Linked DNA regions of Homo sapiens: region 1 is linked to region 2. Evidence: fine-mapped expression QTL. Tissue or cell type: fibroblasts. Region 2 holds a variant in brackets; the other region holds the start of a gene. All regions are shown on one strand. Distances are between the middles of the regions.

What was found. PIP is the estimated chance that this variant, and not a neighbour inherited with it, causes the effect.
Region 1: it holds the start of SALL1, and the variant in region 2 is fine-mapped to the expression of SALL1 in fibroblasts (GTEx, PIP above 0.99).

Annotation. Positions count from the first base shown.
Region 1 is chr16:51,148,247-51,155,599 of GRCh38, reverse strand. It overlaps SALL1 (spalt like transcription factor 1), which reads left to right and starts at 4,330. Exons shown (of 3, transcript NM_002968.3): 1 at 4,330-4,434. The coding sequence starts at 4,359. RefSeq lists enhancers at 1-977, 4,633-5,133.
Region 2 is chr16:51,536,335-51,543,687 of GRCh38, reverse strand. No RefSeq gene overlaps it. Among named protein-coding and RNA genes, the nearest start is that of HNRNPA1L3, 110 kb to the left of the region's middle. RefSeq lists enhancers at 1-874, 3,182-3,795, 3,796-4,410. The variant G/A (reference allele first, on the strand shown) is at 4,480.

The DNA of each region.
Region 1 (7,353 bases), 390 kb after region 2:
GGAAAATACAAATAAACCCCAGGTGGTTAATGCGGGTGCATTCAGGAACACCCCCCCACCAACACACACACATGCACACACACACACAGCTGGCCACCCGCTCTGTCCCACCCACCTCCGGGCAGGGGAGGGACTGGGAACCTGATCTCCGGGCTCCTGCCCCGAACTTTTCCCCATCAATAATGTTGATACCATCGATGTGCCTCGTCCCCCGCCCCCGGGGCGCCGCTGCCGCCTTTTCGCCGCTTTTTGCCTTGCTTAAGAAAACGAAACCTCCACTACTGCCCTTCTAGCCTCGGCCGGGGGCCAGCGGGGCCTTGAGCTGGGGACTGAGGAAACAGGGGTGCAGGGAGAGCACTTGGAGACGTCCTCCATTTCTGGGGTAGGGTGGCCAAGCACCGTCAACGGAACGGAAAAGAGGGTCTGGGGCCCAGGCAAGGCCTCATCCCAGGCCCCATCCCAGACCCGAGGTCAGATCGGGCCAGAATAAGATACTTTTGAGGGTAGAAGAACCAGGCCTCAGAATGCGCGAGCCTTGACGCCCCCCACGTTGCCCTTCGTAGGACCAGAGGTTGAGCAAAGAAGCCTGGAAACCTCATGGCTGGGACCCCAGTTGTGGCCTGCGGCCTTGGGGCACAGACCTTCGGCCCCGCCAACCCACCAAGGATACTCTAGGACTTGGGAAAACTAAGGGGACGTATTAGTAGGAACGAGCATCAATCCCCCAAGATGGGAGTTTGCAAAACTCGCCAAGCGCCTCCCCCGGGTGCGGTTCCTCTCCGCCAGTGAGGTCGCGACCCCGGCGCAGCTGCCGCCTCACTTCGGGCTATCCCCATTCGCTATTGCGGATCAGCCCCTAAGTACCAGGCCCTCTGGCGGAACCTGCAAGTCCAAACTTCGCTACCCGGATTCCCCAGTAGTCCCCCCCCCACCCCACCTCCACCCAGAGTTAGGAGGGTGCTACCGCACGTAGAGCGCGCAGGTCTCTGGGGTGAGCAGGGCGCGTGGAGGGACTCCAGGAGTGGCACCTCACTCCCGCTCGCCGCCTACTTTCGACCCGCACAAAAATAAAGAATAACCCCCACTCTGCTTCTGTTTTTATTGATGTATTTCTTTGCATCGCGGCACGCGGAGCCTCGCCAGCGCCCTGACACTGCAGCGCCCGCACCAGCGAACCACGGAACTTGGGACCGAGACAATGGCCCGTAATTGATGTATTGCCATCAACAATAAAGACCAATTCTCCTCTCCCCGCCATTCCGACCATCCCCCTCCTCCCATCCCCCCCTCCTCCACCTCCCATCTCCTTTCCCGGGGCCACCGAGGGAAAGAAAACAAACAAGAAATTAGCGGGGGACGCCAAGCGCAGATCGAAACGCCCGCCTCTACGCCGTCGAGGACGCAAAAAAACGAAAAAAGTTATTAAAGTTTGGATCCCCCAATTTATTCGTCTCTGCTCGCCCATTTTTAATTAAGCATCGCGTAGCTGCTTTTCGCATGTTCATTTCGTTTGGTTGTTTGTTGTGGTGTTTTTTTGGGGGGGGGGAATTTTTTTTTTTCCTACACTTAATCTTAAATCACACGTAGACCAAGTAACAAACACGTGTGAAGTTATTCCCGGGAGCTTCCTGCTGCGCACGCGGCGCGCACCAGGAGAAAAGCTTTGCGGGACCGCCAGCTCCGCTAGGTTCCTGGCTGCATGCGGTGCCCGGGAGGCCCGGACTTTCAAGAAGCCAAGATTGTTAGAGAAGGATGCGGGCGGCTCCAAACACGGGCACATTCCGGGAAAGGAGTGTGCAAGTGCACACAAACGCGTTCGTGTACCTGGGACAGTGTGGATTGGTGGGTGTGCGAGGACCCCTGTTTGTGAGATGGAGGCGGGTGCGGGATTTACACGTGCTCCCGTACACGTTCCCCGGGGTCTGGGAGATGCGAGCCGCTCACACCCCAGGAGTGCGCAGATCCATCTTTGCCGAGGGATCTCTTTAAATATTCAGTGAGAAATAATGGCATTTGAAGCACCACCTATGGAAACATTATTATCTTCATTCTTCAACATCAGCCCCACTGATAGCTTCGTTTGTCTTTTTATCAAAATCTACTGTACCCATCAGGACCTGGCGAGAACGGGAGAGCGAGGCGGAGAGGGTGTGAATGTGTGTGTTAGGGAGTGAGCGAGGGCAGAAGATAAGTAAGAGAAAAGGTGGAAAACGGACGAGCAGGGAGAGAGAAGGGAGAAGTTATACCAATAAAAAAAAATAAAGTCAGCAGATGAAAAACAGAAACATTCATCGGCACACACACACATTTACACCTTAAAAGAAAAGATTTAAGAAGCTAAGAGAAAGGGAAGGGTCCTCTACCGGAGCGCAGTACAGGTCCGGAGTACACGAAGTCGGCTCGGGAGACCGGTGCCCACTTCGCGCGAACCGACCGTGGCACCGGCCAGACTCAAGGGCGCTCGCGAATTGGGGCGTCCTTATGAGCCCTCTCCTTTCCTGATCGTGAGATAGGGCAGGGATTGTGTATCTGCACCCCCCTCCTCCCCCATTACTCAGCCGAAGTTTAGTTTAGTTTAGTCCTTCGGGCGCAAGACTTCGAGAACCTTGGAGCGAGGAGACCCCGAGGCGCGAGGGGAAAGAGCTAGGCTGAGCCGCGTACCGAGTCTCAGGTTCGCGGGCGCCTGAGCCCGGCAGAGGGATCGGGCTCCTGGCTCTGGGCTCTGGGGCGAGGGTAGGGAGGTTGCATCTCAGCTTGAGGGAGATGGTGATAGAGCGAAAAGTTCGGGCGCCGCGCTCGGCAAGTGCCCAAAAAGTGGAGGCGAGCTTCGGCGCCGCCAGGCAGCCTCGGACAGAACACCTCCCCACCGCCCTCCCCCCACCCCGCTTTCCGGCTCTGCGCCGCCACCTCGTCCCGGAAGGCTGGGGCGCGGCCCCCTCCCCAGGGCGGGGTGCCCAGGGGTCCCAGGGACTGGCCCAGTCCAGTGCCGGGTCCGCCCGGGCTGTGTCTCCCTAGGCCGGTGCTCGCTGCTGCGCTCAGTGTGAGCCGCAGCCCCTCCCCTCCCCCCGGCCGGAGCTGAACTCGGAGCCCAGGCCGGTCCCCGCTCTCCGCCCGCCCGGGGCTCTGCGGCGCCACCGCTGCCGCCGCCTCCCCGCGGAGTGACGCGCCCTGCAGCCAACCGGGGCAGCCGGGGGGGAGGTCCGGGAGGGGTCCTGGGCGGAGCCGGGCCGCCCCCTTATCCCACGGGCTCGGGGCTGCTTCTCCCGAAAACTTCAGCCCTAATTGTCCTGGGAATGTCCGAGGTAGAGAAAGGGAGCGAGGGAGCAAGCAAGAAGCTGGAGGATCAGTGCCCCTGGCGGGGAGGGGATGGGGTGGCGGGAGAACTGCCCCTCCCCCCAGCCACAAACCCATCAGGTTCCCAAACCTTTCCTGGATCCTCTTCTCCGCGCCCCCGCGAGCCCGGGATCCAGGGGATGGAGAACTCGGGGCGGAGGAGCGCCGAGCCAGGCGGGAGGGAGGCCGAGCCGTGGGCGGGAGGCGGACCGGCGTGGGGCTGGCTCTTCCCCACTCGCTTATTTTTTTTTTTAATGGGGGTGGGGGTGGGCTGCTTTCTGGTAGCTCTTAAAGAAACGAAGAAACACTCACGAAACGGGACGCCCTCCCCCCTGATCCCGCCGCGGGACTCCCTCCCCCCGCGGGCCGGCGCGCCTCGCCCCCGAGTTGGGAAGTTCGCAGCGCGCCGGCAGCCCGGGTCCCCAGCCCTCGCCGCCCGGCCCCACCCCCCACCCGGGGCGGCTCAATTCCGGGGAGGGCATGCTAATTTGGGTCGGCCCAGCCCGGGATTGTGGGGGGGGGCGAAGGAGGGAGGGAAGAGGGAGGGGAGAGGGAGAGAGCGGGGGGCGCCTGCCGGGGCGCCGGGCCCGCAGTGGAGAGGAGGCCGGCCCCCGGCGGCCGGGCCGCGGAGTCCCGGGCGGTCGCAAAGAGGGTTAACCCAGTGTCGGGCGGCGCGGCGCGCAGAGCCAGCCCCGCGGCCGGCTTATTGGGCCAGCGCGCGGAGAGACAGGGGTCTGCAGCAAATCACGAACTAATTGATTAAGGCGAGCGGGTTTGAATAGCGCTGGCCCGGTGCCAATCGCCTTTCAAAGAGCCCCTCTATGATTAATCGCAATGCATTATTGATAATCATAATTATAGCAGGACACATGCGCGCTGCGCCCGGGGCCGGGGAGCCGGGGAGGGGGCGGGCGGGCCGGCGGGCGGGGGGAGCCGCCGCCGCCGCCGCCGCTCGATTTCCGTAATTTTGAGAAGATTTTTTTTTAGTAATTTTTTATTCTGCCCCAGCTGATGTTTGAGCCAGCATGTCGCGGAGGAAGCAAGCGAAGCCTCAACATTTCCAATCCGACCCCGAAGTGGCCTCGCTCCCCCGGCGAGATGGTGAGTGCTCCGGCCCGCGCCGTGGACACACACACACGCACTCACACTCACGCACACTCGGACCCACTCACACGCGGCTGGCCCCCGCGCCCCCTACCTCACCGCCGCCGCGGCCCCGATTGCTTCTTCCACTCGGCGTAATTTTTTTTTTCTTTTTAATTTTCAATGTGCCTTTGCTGGGCTTTCCCCCGCTGCCCCGGGGAAAGCGAGCACATCTCCCGGCAGGATCTTTCCGGAGTTGTTGGGTCCTCCCGGGGGAAGGAGGGCGGGCATGCCGGCCTGGCTTCTCCGTCCCTGCTTTTCCGGGGATCCCAGCCGCGGCCAAGACCCGGGAGCCCCATGAGGCGTGGGTGCGGGTGGAGGTCGCCCCGGCCTGACCGCACGGGGCCCCTAGCGCTCCCGGCGCCGGCCCCAGGGCACCCGGCCCGGCCTCCGCCGCCCGGCCTTGCTGCCAGCGGTAAGGAAGTTTACTTCGGGCGCTGGGCTGAACTCCGAGCGTGGGGGAGTTCGCTGCGCCCCCCTGCCCCCACGCACACTCCCCCTCGGCCTGCGAGGCAGAACCGGGTGTCTTTGGAGGTTCAGAGCTGCAAGAAGATGGGGACTGGTGTCGGGGCGCCAGCGCCTGACCCGCTGGGGTTGCGGCCGGGGTGGAGAGTGCTGCTGGCCGCCAGTTGTTCCGGAGACGGTGCAAACGGACGGGGAAAGTGTCGGGGTCTGGCTCGCAAAATTTATCTCCGCATCTCTTCCCACAACACTTGCACCCTCTGCCCCCCAAAATCTTTCTGGTCGGTATGCGCCCTCTGCGGATCGTGGTGCTCCCTACTTCCAGGGGGGTCAGGGAAGAAGTCATAGAATAGTTTTCCAGGTTTGCGGGTGGCCAGCCAGAGTGGAATCCCCCCTGAAACAGGGGCACTTGTTTTCTCCGATGGAGGCGACAACTGTGGGTCCCGAAGGGGCTGAACAAGTCCAGAACAAAGTTTGTGTGTGGGGGCTATGGCAGAGAGTGGAAGAGATCCGGGCAGGGAGTTGGGGTACAAAGGGAGGACACCTGGAATCCCTCCTTGCTCCTAAAGGTGTTTCACGGTACCGGCCTCAAAGCTCCCAGGCCTAGCGCCCGAGGCGGTGTAGCGGCGCCCGGACTCGGGTCCCCGGGTCGTCCCGGCACGATGCTGGCCTCTCGGCTGTGGGAGGACGCACAAGGAGCAATCTCGGCGGGGTCTCAGCGGCTCCGGATGCCACTCGGGATGCCCACGCCCTAGGCGGCATTTTGGGGTGTGAAGGAGGGAGCTGGGCCCCGACAGAGCTCCGAAGCGTGACCCTGATCGGCACCTCAGCCCACTAAGCTGCGGCCGCCCGGGCCCCCAGGTCCCCGGCTCGTTTCCCAGAGGCCTGCCTCTCGGTAGAGCTGGGGCACAGTGAAGCGAAGGGACCCCCGCTCCCTTTACCCCTGATGTCGGGAAAGGGGAATCCTGACTTGGGGTCCCTGTAAAAAAATGGAGGACTTGAAATTAATTAAGAAATGCTTTACAATAGCCCTCCTCCCGGCCCCCAGTGTTTCCTCAAGCTTGAATCCTTACCCACGGCCTCTGCGATTTCTCAGTCCGCTGAAAAGAGCCCCTGAACCCCGCTTTCCACCCCAAGCGAAAGCGAGCACGCGGGGTAGATGGAGGTGAGATGACCCAAGGCCGCAGCAGCTGCGCCGAGTATTTTTCCGGGTTTTCTCAGCTTAGTTTCTTCTGCTTCCCGCAGTCACACTCATCTTTCCTAAAGTTTCTGGTGAGACCTTTTGCACCGGAAAACTGTTCAGGTTAACAGTTTGTACACAAAAAAGCAAACTAGAGATAAGAGAGCATTATATAGTGTGTTTTGTAAATTTGTACTGGTTTTCTACATTTAAAAAAAAAAAGTCTCGGCCTTCGAGGAGAAATGATGCGTGGAAGATCTTTGCCTTTTGCCTTCAGTATCAGGAATTTTTAATAGTTAAGTCTTCTCATAAAGCAATAATATAAAAGGAGTTCACTACCTCTTACCATTATTCTTTATTAGTACTATTTTTTTCAATTTAGTTTATTTGAGCTTTGAGGTAAGTTAAGTAACTCAATCAAGTTTCCTTTCTTTCTCTTTTCTCTCCTTCTTTTGATTTCTTTCTCTTCCTTCCTTTCTTTTTTCTTCGCAAAAGCTGGTACATTGTCCTAAAGAAGCAGTAAACTGTTAGGGGCTCCCTAGGAAACACCCCCTCCCAGCCTTCTTTCCTCACCTCTCCCCACCCCCTCCTCTTTTTCTTCAGTAGTAATGGTTTTAGGTTATGACTGTTTTTACATGGTTGAACAATAAGTTTGGGAGAAGTTGCCTAGAGGGTAGATTTTGTAATAGGGTTTCAGGATTTAGTGTGTTGTAATAATATTAGTACACAAGTAATCCTCCCCCAACGCTGGACATACAGGAGGGCCTAACATACTCCAGTTCTTTTATTTGGGAGTAGTTCTGAAATAAATGGCATTGAAAGTTCATGACATAACTCAAGGTTACCTTTTAAAAGTCACCTTTTCTGCAGTGAGTTCAGCAATCTCATTCTTCTCCCCACATATAACCCATACTTCTAGGAGTAGCTGGATTTTCTGTTTTGTTTTGTTTTTTACGTAAAGAAACATTGTTATATTTTTAGAAGGCAAGCCCCTTTTCAAACATTCTGATTACTTTTTCTTATGTCTTGAGATGGTCTTTGAAATATGACAAATGAAATATGAAACATACCAAATTAAATCTAGTTCATGCACTTCTCATTTATCAGCACCTCAGATTGTATGACTTCTACCCAGAGTGAGACCTAGAAAAGTTTGTAGACCTAAGTTACAGGAGCCCTAAAGAAGCAGCTCCCAAAGCTGAAAGCAGCTAGGGCTGCTTGGTGTTGTGTGTCCT
Region 2 (7,353 bases):
GTTTGAATGGTAGGAACCATCTGGGTCTCTCTTAATGACCGGGGGCCCCTCTGTGCATGGGTACAGATGCTTCTTTTGTTATTGGTGCTATTTTGTAAATAGTTAAAATATTTACCAAGGCACCTCTGAGCTGGAGCTATCCCATTTTATTATTTATACCTTTTCAGAGGGACAAAAATGGAGGTGTCCACTAAACGTGATGGATTAGGCTTATAAACAGCCATTATGGCCGTCAAACCTCACATGTCAGCTCCCCCTTTGTGTCTGCGCATTTCTAAGCTAACCAGTGATCCATGCATAAGATAGAAGGTTAAGAATGCGCAGAGAAAAGGAGTGTTGACTCCAAGCAAGATGTATCTTCTGCTGATTAGAAATACAGCTGTAGAAAGTGAGGGGGACGCCAGGCAAGAGGCGAGAAAAAGGGACTTGTGTGTGCATGAGTGTATGCGTATGCATGTGTGTGTGTATGTGTGTGTGCGCGCGTGTGTGTGTTTGCAGGCAGAAGGGAGAGAACTGGGGAGGTGCAGAAGTCACTGCAACCTGACACGCTGCATTTCAGTTTTCACAATTTCAGGCTGAAAATCTGCAAGGCCTCTACCTGCCAGCATCCCTCAGCTGTTTCCTTAACTGACTGCAGCTGGTTTTTGTTTTCCCAAGATAAAAATCAGGAAATGCAAAAATTAAATAGGATTTGAGAAGAAAAAGGATGGGCCCTGGGTAAGAAGAAAAAGAGTGAGCCAGCAGTTACCAAGACTTGTTGACAGAGGGATATTCCATCTTGTCGTAATTAAGTTTTAAAAAATCTTAAAATAGGGTGAGGCGAGTGGCAACCCATGCGGCAGGTGATCCTGCGCAATGCCTAGGAGCTAAACTGGAGTGACTTATTCACAAAAGTGAGATTTGAAAATCCTAGATAAAGTTACATGGAAGGGAAAATGAGGTATTTTTAAATCAAACTACTTTATAATTCATAAAGGATGCATTGTAAATCCAATTAATGAAAGGAACCAAAGTAACTTGTCTTGCAGGTAAAGAGGTGAATGTAAATTATGTTTTTTGGCCATGATGGCTGCACATGTATTGGAAAAAGTTTCTGTCAAAAACTGGCTTCCATTATATTTTTACCCTTAAGTCCCAGCTCCTTTAATCTCTGAGAGTTTGTCTCTGATTTCCTGCCATGCCACAAACTCCAGCCTACAAATTCGTCCCTCACTCTCTCTCAAAGAGAAGCTGTGGAATTAAGAGGCAAAGGAGCTCATGCTTTTGAAAAGATCAGGCACGGAGTGGCTGAAATATCATCTAGCCACTCTAAATGTAGATTGGAATTTTAATTTTGGTAAAGTATTTCCTAGCCATCTCCTCTAAAAATCTAAATAAGAAATGATGACCTCATTTATGTATGTATTTATTTATATAGTTATTTATTCACTGTGGGACTTGGATCAAAACTTACTGATGTAACAATAGAAAATTATATTTATCTGCCGTTTTGCAAAGAAAGGAGAAAAGAACATTTGGAAAATACAAAGACCGAAGCAAACTTCCTCTTTTGACTCAGGGGGCTGTTCCATCCTAAAAGTCTGTCTTTGGGTCTCTGGTCACCTTTAAGCATCTCCTAGAGAAAGCCCCTCCTCTAGCCCCTCTGCCTTCAGGCTGGTGTCTGCCACATTAGTATGCTGGTGCACCAACTAATTTGCCTCTATAAATGCTGGGATCTGAATCACACCACTGTTGTGGCCAGAGACTAAATTTCTCTCATCACTCTCTTTGGAGGAAAAGAAAGAAAGAAAAAGAAACACACACACACACACACACACACACACACACACACACACGTTTTCTAAACAACATTCTTACTCAAGCTACACTCATTGACGTTATAAGCCCAGTGGATCACGATTTGGCTCATTAAGAAGCATGGTCTATGAAATGAACACTCAATAAATCTCCCATAAGACAGTAATTTTACTTTTTGTTCACAATTATAAGTAATAATAATAATTCTTATCAGCCCCCCCTCACATAACAAACACAAAAGCCTAACTAGGCTCACTTAATGGTTCCCTTGGCAAACTCTAAAAAGCAACCACAGGAGTATGCCTTATAGCTGATTCCTCCTCCACTTAATCGCTCCCATTCATGAATGAATTAGAATTTTCTGTAACTCAGAATATGTTAATTAAGCAAGAAGAACTTGGAAAGTTAAACTGTTATACCAAGCAGTTTGGGTAAACATTGTATATGTTTATACAAAAATGAACGGCATATATGTTGCCTATCACATAGTTCATAGGACCCTCAGATGTATAGAAGCCACTAATTGAATTGCTCCCATGGCCCCTGCTCTCCTAATAACACACACATACACACACACACACACACACACACAACTATATTGAAGCCTAAAAAAACCACAACACCTCCAGAAGGCATATTTTTCTGTCCTCTTAGCCATAGGCAGCTACTTTAAGAATGGCTGTCACTATTTTCATAAGAAACAGGGAAGACGTGAGTTCCCATTGACACCCCTTTCTCTTTCCGTCTGCTCTAAGGCTTTCAAATATTCCTGAGAAGAGCCTTTCTGTTTGTTTGTTTGTTTGTTTGGTTTGAGACAGGGTCTCACTCTGTCACCCAGGCTGGAGTACAGTGGCAGGATCATGGCTCACTGCAACCTTGACCGCCAGGGCTCAAGCAACCTCCAACCTCAGGCTCCTAAGTAGCTGGAACTACAGGCATGAACCACTATGCCACCACACACAGCTTATTTATTTATTTGTGTAGCTACAGGGTTTCACCATGTACCCCAGGCTGGTCTTGAACTTCTGGGCTCAAGCAATTCTCCCATCTCCGCCTCCCAAAGTGTTAGAGTTACAGATGTGAGCCTCCATGCCGGGTGAGAAGAGCCATTTCTAGAAGCCCATCTGGCCTGTGTCTACTTTAGGGATACTGGGCATCGGACCAAATCACCAGTTTAAAAAAAAAATCCTCAGATAGGATTGTAAGATTTTGTAAATAAAAATATGGGATGCCCCAGTTAAACTTGAATTTCAGGCAACCAAATAATTTGTTAGTATAATTGCATCCCCATATAATATTTGGTGTATACTTCTCTAACACCACTACCCTGAGAAAGCCCGAGCCTGGTGACTCCAGGAGAGTGACTCACCCTGGGCATCTTATTTCTTACTTTGTGATTTTAATTAACAAAGAAAGTGCTGAGTGAAACCACAGATGTCCAGGTTTCTCAATGAGACACAACAACTCTCTGAGGAAGGTGTCTCAATGTGGGGCAGGAAGGCAGAAGCAGACCATTAGAGGCTGCCCCCAGCAACAAACCAGAGCTCACACCTAGTCTCAAATGTTGCTCACAGCCCAAGGAGGTCGGACTTTTATTATCTCCATTTTATAGACAAGAAAACTGAGGCACAGTTTCCAAAGCCAGGCAGCTATAACACAGAGATTTTGCCCCAGAGAGTCTGGCTTGAGACTCTACACTTAAAATAAAAATAATACCAAGCCAGAACATTAACAATTTAATTTTCCAAAGGACCTAAACTGCACATGTATACTAAAATGGAAATGGTTGCAGCCTCATGGCCTGCACCCGCCGCTGCCTCTCCCACTGAGCTGTTAGTGCCTGGACCATGCTTGGCCAGCCCAGTGAGGAATCCAGTGCTGGAAACATGGTGGAGAGAAACATGCGTGAACCCCAGAGAGGAATGGGACAATGCGGGGGGGTACCCTGTTATGCCCCCACCAGAGTCCTGCCCCCGACCCACCTCATTTCTCCCAACCTACAGGGGCAGAGAGCAATGAAAAATATTGAGAATGCAGGCTTAAATGAGGAACTCTGGCAAAAAAATCCTTTTCTCTAATTTAAAGACCACCCAGGTGTGTGCTGGTCTGTCCCCATTTTAGGGTCTTTGCCTCTTGCTTTTCAGCAAGAAAAGAAACAGATGTGATCCCCATTCATCCCTAATGGAGACAGAAGGGGAGGGAGGACCTGGGCAGTGTGGGGAGCTCGGGGCTGTCTCTGGCCTGGAAATTCTGTCTTGTAGGAGGGGGACAGTAACTTCCACAGCGTTTAAGCCTGCCTGTATTTGTCACCTGTCAGCTCAAAGTCCAGCACATAGTATGCAATCAATACACATATGTTCAATCTCTTTAAAATTAAATAATGCAATCAAAAGTCTTGGTGGTGCCCAGGGCATGGGCTGGTGACTGGCCTGGCCTTGGGACTTGGAGCCTGACCACAGGAGTCTCACTTGGTTGGAGTCACCAGTTGATGGGTTGGGGGTGGGGTGCTGGCTTCCCCTCACTCCCACCCTGGACTGGGTCAGCTCAGAGTGTCCTGGACAATTATCCCCAAAGGGGAAAAAAAGTCCTGTTCAACAAATCCTCAACTTTTGTCTCCTCTGGGGCTGCAGACCGTGGTACCTCTTATTCAGCCCTCCCTCTCCCCCATCCTGTGCCTGGGAC[G/A]TTCTGTGGTTATGAGTCAATGATCAGACAGGAAAAGGGCACGCTTACTATAGGGGAGGAGGATTCAGCAGGGCTCTGGGCTTTGATGCCGGTTCTCTTACATCCTGAATGCATGAAAGGCTATGGGAGGGAGAGGAAGAAATATAAAAGCAGAAAGGAAGAAAATGTTATTAAAAAAAAAGTTGAAGGGGAAAAGAAGTGCCTGGTTTGAAATGTTGTTAAGTATCATCGACAAATATCTCCAGGAGACAAAAGCTAGTTAAAAACTGAGTTGAGATAAGCCATCTCCTTCAGTGACTCATCTTCCTAGGGAATAATGGCAAAGAGGCGGTGTTTAGGAGAGAACTGATGTGCAAATAGCAGTGTCCCTGAAGCTGGGGTTAATTACAGGAAGGACTTCCAGGGTAGTTGTTGATACATAGCACTGGCAGCAGAGCCTTGCATCACAGGCTAGGAAGGCAGCTCTCCGCCATTTGAATAGGGTCCCCAAACACTGTCCCAGAGGCAGGGGCCTGGGTGGCTCCCCAAATGCGTTCTTCAGAGAAGCCTCATGCCCAGGCCATGTTGCTTTGTGGGCTGACCCGGCATCCCTACCACCCTAGTCCAAGAACGCTCCCACTCAGTCCAGCCCCTGAAAATGTATCTGTAAATAAACCAGAAATAAAATGTTGTTTGCCATGCTGTTGGAAATTAAAAACTTCAGTCCAAGGATTGGCAAGCAGCACCTCCAAACCATCAGCTAAGTCAAGTCTGGCTGTGGAAAATGGAGATTATTGTCTCAGAGAAACCATTTTTGTACCAGGATACACCTCAAGCAGCTTTGCCTTGCACCATGCCCCACCTCCCAACTTTTTTTTTTTTTTTAGATGGAGTCTTGCTCTGTTGCCAGGCTGGAGTGCGGTGGTGCAATCTCGGCTCACTGCAACCTCTGCCTCCTGGGTTCAAGTGATTCTCCTGCCTCAGCCTCCTGAGTAGCTGGGACTACAGGTGCACGCCACCACACCCAGCTAATTTTTTGTATTTTCAGTAGAAACAGGGTTTCACCATGTTGGCCAGGCTGGTCTCGATCTCTTGGCCTTGTGATCCACCCGCCTCAACCTCCCAAAGGGCTGGGATTACAGGCGTGAGCCACCATGCCTGGCCACATCATGCCCCCTTTAAGAGATGAAATAATGCAGTATATCCATATAGGCAAGGACAACTTGTGATAATTGAGCCCAGAAACGTACCCCATCCTGGGCAGGTTTGCAATGGGGACAGGATACCTGAATTAGAAGGAGGAGTCTGGGAAGCACTGAGAACTGTCCATTGAAAGGAAGAAGAAGCCTACATAAAAAAGCACGCACCAGCCAGCTCCCTATGCAGTGGCTCTCTGATACGCACTGATAAAATTTCAGAGGATGCTGAAAGAGCTCAGCCTCCTCTGCTCCTCCTCAGAAAGATAAGGGTGGGGGCTTTTTCCAACTCTCCACAAGCATCTTTTGACAATTCCGCAAAGGCAGTTCTTCAGTGAGGGGCATAAAGCAGATTCTGAGATCAAAGGGCTGCCGCTGGTAAAAACAGAGAGAAGGTGCAGGGAAAATGGCCCGAGGGCTAAGATCAGCCACCAACCTCCTGATCCAGGCCTCAGTTTCCCCACCTATGAAATGATGGGATAATCAAGATGATGTCTCAGCCCTCACATCTGATTTTCTGAAACTTGGGAACTCCTCAAACAGGTAATCTGACCCCGAGGGCAGGAAATCTATTTCACAGTCCCCTTTCTCTCTCCTACCACCTTAAATAATGCCTTTACCATTAGTAAGAACTTAATAAATAAATATTTTGAATGGATCCATGCATGTGTGATCTGTGGCTCTTTCTTTGTCTTTTAAAATAAAAGATTTTTGGGCCAGTATTTGGGGAGGTGGTACTTCTCTTTCTTTCAGTCTTATAGAGTTGCTTCCAAAGACGAAATAAGAATAAATGACTGTAACAGCTAATATTTTTTGTGCTCAAGCACATTGCATACTTATTCTAATTATATCTCAAAATATTCCTGTGTGGAGTGGTTGCTATCATTCTCATGCCACAGGTGAGGAAATGAAGACTCAGAAAGACTAAGGAATGAGGCATTCCAGTGTGTCAGCCCTAGCTCCTTTTGACGAAGAGTCCTTGTGTTTAAGCATCTTCCTTGACTGCAGGGAGTTTTGCTGTGACCCTACCACTGGCTTGCTGAGTGCCCTTGGGTAAGTCAGTGTCCCTACCCAGTTAAAAAGTGCCCCCTTGGCTGGGCGTGGTGGCTCACACCTGTAGTCCAGTACTTTGGGAGGCTGAGGTGGGCAGATCACTAGGTCAGGAGTTCAAGACCAGCCTGGCCAACATGGTGAAACCCCGTCTCTACTAAAAATACAAAAATCAGCTGAGCATGGTGGTGGGCACTTGTAATCCCAGCTGCTCAGGAGGCTGAGGCAGGAGAATCATTTGAGCCCAGGAGGCAGAGGTTGCAGTGAGCTGAAATCATGCCATTGCACTCCAGCCTGGGTGACACAGCAAGACTCTGTCTCAAAAAAAAAAAAAAAGAAAAAAAAGTGCCTCTCTTGAGCTAGTGGTTATCCCTGCTTCCTTCCCAGACTGGCATTTCAGACTTCTTTGTTCAGCACACAGTTATCAGCTCAAATGGGCCCTCCTTAGGAAACTCTTCAATTCTGCCATGCCCTATCTACTTCCCAGTAAGGCAAACCCTTATTGTGGACTGTCCTTTTCACTTCTCTGTCTGCATATTTATGTGAGCATTAAATTCATGGTCCTCTTTTCCACTACACTGCAAGCCTCCCAATCGCTCATGTCTGTCTTGTTCATCACTGTATTCCATCCCTGGAAATTTATCCCCAG